Linked DNA regions of Homo sapiens. The protein of the gene in region 2 purifies or fractionates together with the protein of the main gene of each other region. This does not show direct contact. Each region holds a gene or a part of one and is shown on either strand. Other genes may lie near its edges. The genes, in order: FGR and CD24.

The links.
Region 1: the proteins of CD24 (region 2) and FGR purify together in Homo sapiens (affinity purification with western blotting, with the first as the bait; one study listed by BioGRID). This does not show direct contact.

What each region holds. Positions count from the first base shown.
Region 1 is NC_000001.11:27,624,922-27,628,728, reverse strand, and holds part of FGR (tyrosine-protein kinase Fgr), read left to right. Parts: intron 1-2,131; exon of another isoform or gene 2,132-2,269; intron 2,270-2,477; exon of another isoform or gene 2,478-2,683; intron 2,684-3,577; 5' UTR 3,578-3,640; intron 3,641-3,807. UniProt on the Homo sapiens protein: Non-receptor tyrosine-protein kinase that transmits signals from cell surface receptors devoid of kinase activity and contributes to the regulation of immune responses, including neutrophil, monocyte, macrophage and mast cell functions, cytoskeleton remodeling in response to extracellular stimuli, phagocytosis, cell adhesion and migration.
Region 2 is NC_000006.12:106,972,415-106,976,321, reverse strand, and holds the start of CD24 (signal transducer CD24 isoform a preproprotein), read left to right. Parts: upstream 1-1,592; 5' UTR 1,593-1,675; coding exon 1,676-1,744; intron 1,745-2,282; exon of another isoform or gene 2,283-2,436; coding exon of another isoform or gene 2,437-2,652; intron 2,653-3,907.

The DNA.
Region 1 (3,807 bases), on a different chromosome or scaffold from region 2:
CAGGGATCCCCTCCATCTGATATAGATATGTTGTGGCAATATATACGTGGGTATTATTGGAAGTGGCAATATTGTATCTGTGTGTGAACATGAGAGATTGTATAAGTCTATGTTCTCCTATAGAGGAGAGCTCTATGTGGGTCCATGTCACCGGAGAGGGCTGTGTATATCTGTGTGTGTGTGTGTGTGTGTGTGTGTGTGTGTGTGTGTGTATCCCTACATGGGGGGTGGGGGGACAGTGTGGGGGCATCCGCATTTGTGCATGCTAGCAGGAATGGCTGCATCTGTCTGTATCTGTGATAGGCAATGGAGAGAAATGCTTGAAAGCTCAGATTCTGGAGCCAAACACCAGGATACATCATGTCTGTGGCCTTCTTTTTTGAGACAGAGTTTCACTATGCTGCCCAGGCTGGAGTACAGTGGCATGATCATAGCTCACTGCAGCCTCTATCTCCTGGTCTTGAGTGGTCCTCCTGCCTCAGCCTCTCGAGGCACGTGCCACCATGCCAAGCTAATTTTTGGAGTTTTTTTGGTTTTTTTTTGTTTTTTTTTTTTTTGAGACAGAGCTTCACTGTCACTCAGGCTGGAGTGCAGTGACAGGCGTAAGCCACCGTGCCTGGCCAATTTTTGTATTTTTTGTAGAGATGGGATTTGCCATATTGCCCAGGTTGGTCTCGAATTCCTGGACCCAAGCAATCCTCTTGCCTTGGCTTCCCAAAGTTCTGGGATTACAGATATGAGCCACTGTGACTGGCCAACCCTGGGCAGGTTTCCAAACCTCTCTGTGCTTCAGTTGCCTCATCAGTAATAATAATACTTAGGCCAGGTGCAGTGGCTCACCCCTGTAATCCCAACACTTTGGGAGGCCAAGGCAGGTGGATCACTTGAGGTCAGGAATTCAAGACCAGCCTGGCCAACATAGTGAAAACCCATCGCTACTAAAAATACAGAAATTAGCCTGGCATGGTGTTGGGTGCCTGTAATCCCAGCTACTCAGGAGGCTGAGGCAAGAGAATGGCTTGAACCCAGGAGGCGGAGGTTGCAGTGAGCTGAGATCATGCCATTGCACTCCAGCCTGGGTGACAAGAGTGAAACTCCCTCTCAAAATAAATAAATTAATAATAATAATACTACTTAAATCATAGGGTTGTGTGGATAAAATGAGATAATATAGGTAAAGTGCTTAATGCAGTGGCCAGCGCATATAGTAAGCGCTATAAATTTTGTATTTGCTATTCTTTTATAGAGGATGTGTGTGTGTGTGTGTGTGTGTGTGTGTGTTCATGTGCATGCACATCTATGTGCAGACGGATGAGGGCTGGAGGTGTGTGTATATGGGGTGTGTGTACACTAGAAGATGTTTGTGCTAGGAATCTGTGCAGAGGAGCCTGGAGCCTGTGCATGAGGCAGCTGAGGTAATGTGCCAACTGAGAAGGGGTCTGAAGGGCTGTGTGGATCTGGGTATCAGCATGGTGCGCCATTTGAGGTGTGTATGTGTGTCTTCCTGTGAGAAGGCTTTATTCTCACCCTTGGTTTTTCTGTTTTCTTTTTAAAATAGAGACAGGGTCTTACTCTGTCTCCCAGGCTGGAGTGCAGCGGTGCAATCACAGCTCCTGCAGCCTCGAACTCCCAGGCTTAAGCAATCCTCCCACCTCAGCCTCCCGAGTAGCTGGGACTACAGGTGGGTGCCATCAGGACTGGCTAATTAAAAAAAGATTTTTTTTTATAGAGACGGGGTGTCCCTATGTTGCTCAGGCTGGTCTCAAGCTCCTGGGCTCAAGCAATCATCCTGCCTCGGCCTACCAAAGTCCTGGGATAGCAGGTGTGAACCACTGTGCCCGGCCTCACCCTTGTTTTTGTATCAGCCCCATCTCTCTTTTCACCAGTTCCTGAAATCCCTCCCGCTGGGCCCTGGATGGCTTCCAGTCCTCCACCTCTATTTTCTGCCCTGGCTCTAACTAGCCCTGTAGCATCCTGGGGCGTTTTAGACACAGTGGTTTCATCCCAGGGAGGGGTCCCGGGGCAAAGGTCTCAGGCAGGGCCCAGTGAACAGGGGCTATTTTAGGGCAGGCTTCTCACCACAGCCCGCCCCACAGTTCACCACATGGGTGTGATGCCCCCACCCCCACCCAATACACACATGAGAGATCACTTAGAGCAAAGGGTGAGAGGGGCAGGTGGGGCTAGGGTGGAGACCAAAGCACTGATGTGACGGAACCATCAGCCAGGCAACTGGACCTGGTGGATCCAGGAAGACTTTCTGGAAGAGGTGAGTGGTGCTAGGTAGAAAGGATAGGACCCAGAGAGAAGAGGAAGAGAATATCTGTAAGGATGACTGGACTGGGGATCGAGAGAGAGAAGCTGGGGGCCCTTTCTTCTAGGACCTTGGGGCCCCTCTGGGGCAAATCAGGGTTCACAAGGTTGGCCCCACCCTAAACTCTCCATTCTCACATCTTAGGAAACCAAGCCCTCTCACCAGTCGGTTCCTCTCTGAGTGTTGCAATGGCAATGTTTCTGGCAGGGTGTGGGGGACCCTTGCTCAATGACCTCCTGCCCTGTTGCTCAGAGGATACCGCTGCCAGAAAAGGGTTGGCTCATTGTGGGGCTTCCCAAGGTACTCTGGTAGCCCCAGCTTCTGACCTGGTCCTTTCTCTGGTATGGGGATAGGAGGAGAGCTCCGGAGGTAGGTATCCACTCTCACTCAGCCACCACATGGAACCCTAGGGTGGCTGGGAGCACAGCAGGGTTCAGAGGAAGGACTGTTTTTTGTTTGTTTGTTTGTTTGTTTTTGAGATGGAGTCTTGCTCTGTCACCCGGGCTGGAGTGCAGTGGTGCGATCTCGGCTCACTGCAAGCTCCACCTCCCAGGTTCAAGTGATTCTGCTGCCTCGGCCTCCCAAGTAGCTGGGACTACAGGCGCCCACCTCCACGTCTGGCTAATTTTTGTATTTTTAGTAGAGACGGGGTTTCACCATATTGGCCAGGCTGGTCTCGAACTCCTGACCTTGTGATCCACTCACCTCGGTCTCCCAAAGTGCTGGGATTATAGGCGTGAGCCACTGCGCCTGGCCGGAAGAACTGGTTTTTAGGAGATGGTGACTGGGGACTGTGAGGGAGCTGAGCATGGCTTGATAGAAATCCTGTTAGAGAGATGATTATAATGTTCAAAATCATGTGTGTCTGAGTGTGTTCGTCTGTTAACCTGGCAGGCACCCCATGTATATGTGCATGTGTATGTGTGTGTGCTATTGTGAGCTTGGGCTTGTTAGAGCCTGTATTGGCGTGTGATGGGGTTGGCACGCACACTCATGCAAATATATGCTGTGAGTGTTATTGTGTGACTGTGCTGGTGGGTCAGGTGAGTATGAGTGTGAAAGAGAGCTGGTGTGGGTGGTTTGCCCTATGTGACGGGGGTTGTGTAAGTGTGCCAGGGGTGATAGGAAGGAAAGTGAAGGCAGAAGTCATGCTGGGGCAGAGCCCAGGCCTTCTGGCTTCCTGAAGAGGGCAGGAGCTGGGCAGCTGCTGACAGAAACATTGGCAGAGACTTCATCTTCCTTGTCCTTCTGTCTCACCCTCAGGTCTCTGACCCCTCCCAAGGATCATGCCGCAGCCCCACTGACCCAGGAGTAGGGGCCTAAGGGGTGAGTGGGGTAGACTGAGGGCTTTCAGGGTCAGGAAACAGGGTGGGGGTGGCCTTCCTGAACCCCACAACTCCTCACAGCCTCCTCCTCCTACAAGGACCCTGTTGCTAGGTAACGGATGGGGGAGCCAGAATGAGGCAGCTTGAGAGGCTGAAGGCTGGACCCAC
Region 2 (3,907 bases):
GAAATTTAGACAAATTTAGAATCTTACTACTCTGTGGTTTACTTTAAAGACCGAAAAATGCTTGGGCTAAACCTTAAATAAAAGTATTAAGTCTTGCAATTAAAAATTGAACCAAAAATACTAACGAGAGTGTTCTGCAAAACTGAAATTTAAACAAATTTACAACCATACTAGGTTTGGTCTCTGCTGTTTGCTTTAAAGACTGAAAAACACTTGGGCTAAACCTTCAATAAAAAGATTAAGTCTTGCAATTAAAATTTAAACTCAAAATACTCCACCAGTAAAATTACTTCAACTTTTGTTGTATGCTTGAAAGTTTTCACAATAAGATGGATAGGAAAAAAGTATTCCACCAAAATCTAAAGAGTGATGACGAATCTCCTCTTTGTGCCGGTTCATTAAATTGCCTAATGGCAACTACGGATAAGTAAATGCCTTTATCTCGAACGGTTCTGCTCTTTAAACGAATGACGGGCAACAGAGACCGAAAAAGTGTATCCCCAGGAATTCGAGAGGGACGGTGAATTGTAGTGGGACCGCCAGGAGGGGAGGTTCCTGCCCCCGAGTAGAACCTGGGAGCAGAGCCGCTCGGGGAGGGCGGTGGGGGCTTCAGGGCCGCGGAGGGGGTCCCCTCAGGGTGGGCCGTCTCCTCCTCGCCCGCCGCAGGCAGGAGCGCGGGGGACCGAAACCCTGTAGTTTGCAGCGTCAGGCAGCGGGTCTGCGCCCAGCGAGCGGCTCCCCAGCTCCTGGGAAGATGCGGACCCGGGACGCCCCCGTGAGCTCACTGCGCCTGGCTGACACGAGGCGCTCACAGAACAAAGCAAGGGCTTCGGGGAGGGCGCGGCCGCGGGGCCGAGCGCGCAGATCGCTCCGGACCCGGACACCGCCTGCGAGGAGCGCCGACCAGCCGGGAAGGGTTCGCGCTAGGCGGCGCCCGGGTCCCGTCGGCCAGGGTGAGCGTCCGGCCCGCGTCCGCGCCACGCCCGCCGCGTTCCCCTTTCCTCTGCGGCGGGCCGAGAGATAACCCTGCCCGAGGGGTCCCGGCGCCCGCCCCCCACGCGGTCGCACTGGAATTCGCAGCCCCTCTCGGGTCCCCGGGGCGCATTTTGCAGTCTGAGTGGCAATGCACTTGCTCCAGGACAGGCGGCTACCCCGCCGCAGCGGAGGCGCGGACTTTTCTTTTGGGGGGTAAGATGGCAGGTCCCGGGAAACAAAGGAAACTTGGGCCCGGCCCCCAGCGCGGCGTGTGTGGCTCGCGTGTGTGCCCCGGGTCCTGTGCCGGAGGCGCTGGGCGCCTGTGCCAGCCTGCCCGCAGCCCGCAGCCGGCGCGGGGATACCAGCCGGGTACCAGCAGCCGGCGGCGCCCGCCCACCTGCAGCGGCGCCCGCCCGGGGGGCTCCCGGCCCGCGAGGGCCGGAGCGGCGGTGGCAGTGGCGGCGGCGGCGGGGGCGCTGGGGAACCCGGAGCGGGGCGGGGAAGGCGGGGAGGCGGCGGGCGGCGGCGGAGGGGAGCCGGGGTGGGCGGGCGGCGCCACGTCACGGCTATTGTGGCTTTCCTGGTATATAAGGTCTCGCCGGCTCGCCGCGCTCCCCACCTTGCCTGCGCCCGCCCGGAGCCAGCGGTTCTCCAAGCACCCAGCATCCTGCTAGACGCGCCGCGCACCGACGGAGGGGACATGGGCAGAGCAATGGTGGCCAGGCTCGGGCTGGGGCTGCTGCTGCTGGCACTGCTCCTACCCACGCAGGTGAGGCCCTGGCGCCCGGCGGGGCTCGAGGGCCGTTCCCGGGGTGGGGGCAGGGGAGATGGACCCGGTCCCGGGGGACCGTCCTGCGCTCCTGCCTCGGGCCACGGACAGGGACCGGGAGAGAATCTTGCTTAGCTGACCAGGGGAGAGGGCCATGTGGACCCCATTTTTCCATTCCCTTGCGTGCTGCCCCCCCTCCTCCCACGGCCCTGGGAACAATGCAGCTCCGCGTGCGGGCTGAGAGGACCCTGCCCCACCCCAGGTTCCACGCTGTCCCTTCCCAGGCAGCCAGGTGACTACTTCCCACTTTCACCCAGAGGCCCGAGGTGCCTGCAGGGATTAGCGCCTGGAGAGCTCGGGCTCCCTGGGGACGTTGTCCCTGGGTCCCTGAGGACTCGCTTTCCCCTAGGAATGTCTTCGCGCTCCCCGCGCTCTACACAAAGAGAGGCGACGGTCCCTTTCGGGGAGGGCGGCTCACGCCCATCCTCCACCCTCGGAGTTGGATTGGGTATCCCGGAGAAGCTACGGCTATCTGGCCCTTTTTAAACAAACCCCGGTTCCGGGCTGAAGCCGAGGCGGGGACCCTCTCCTGACGCTGCGCTCTCTGCGAGGCAACCTTTCACGTCCATCGCTTGTCATCTTAGGATCCCCATGTTATTTTAGCCCAGATTGGCTAGTTCTGGGGAGGCAGCATGGTGGGACGATTCTGTCCCGAGTCCCCGCCAGGCTTTGTTCGGGTCGCCGCTACCAGCGCGGTCTCCCTAGATCCTCCATCCGGGGAACCTCGCCCCGGGTGCGGGTACCCGGGGCCGCGCAGCGCTGCCTCGAGGGTGTATGGATGCACCGCGCCGGCGAGAGAGACCGGGGGCTGGGCCTGGGAGACCCTAGCGGGGGCGGGGGCGAAGAAGGTACGTTTGTTTGGGTCAGTTCGGGTTTGGAGGATGGGAGTGACGGCTCTCCAGCGCCTTCGATTGGGGTTAATCGAGGACTGTCACTGGGGCTTCTCCCCCAAAGTTGGGCGCGCTGCGTCCTCCGTCCCCAGACATCGAAAGTCCGGGCTCACCTGGGAGTGCAGCCTGAGTGTGGAACGCGCTTCCCCACCGCTGGCGGGGTAACCGTACCCTATTGTCTTCCTCCCAGTCCGCTGCGCTCCCGAGCCTTCCTCAATTCTTTGATGGGGGAGGGGCGCGGCTGCGAGAAACCGGCCCCCTCCACTCCCCGCCCCATCTTCTCTCCGACCAGATTTTTTTCCTCCAACATTGTAAGTGAGAAGTTTTAATAATGCGAATAAATCTAGCTTGGGAGAGAAAATTTTGTTTAGTGTCAGTTTAATAAACATAATTTTTTTGTTGGTGTAGAGGATCTTTAGATCCTCAGATTGATACACCAGGTTTTAAAAAGAAAACATCACCTGCTGCAGTAAAACTCATTGCATGAATAAAGAACAGGTTACTTTGCGGGATCCCAAACAAGGTGTCCAAAACAGGCACCCTGTTTTAAGTAAATTACCATATTAATGCTTTTCTTTATTGGGAGTGCCGTTTCCTGATGGGACACACTAAATCTTGCACACAGTAGGTGCCCGATAAATAAATTTGACTTGATCAAGATTTTTTTGTTGTTGTCACTAATCTATTTTGGATAGGATTTGTACATTTCTGTAGTCAATATTTGTTTAATGACCTTATGGATTTTACAACAAAAGGAGCTGGTGCTGATGTAGGAGGGCTTTATCTTTGGATTAATAGGCAGCCAAATGTACACGGGGCCCAGACTCTTGCCTGGTGCCACGTCCTCCCTCCAGCCTGTAATCAGAAGCTCTTGTAAACCCTCCCTTGCAGTGAGGGCTGAAAACTCCGATCTGCCTTTGTTCCATGACAAAGGAGAGATTATCACGTGCCCTACTGGACTGTGCATTTCGTGGCTTGAAAAATCAGTGGTGAATGATGCCACTCAGACGCTGGGACACTGGGAGAACCTTGGTTCTTGGCCACAGCAATGAGCTTGGCGACCAGTGAGGCTGCTGCTGGTGAAACTTAACACCATAACCTCTCGTTGTCTTTTGTGAAATCGTTCCGACTTCATGGTGTTTTCTTGAAGTCATTCTGCCTTAAAGGAAAAACTCATTTTCTTTTTCAATTTAACACAAATATTGTGGCCATT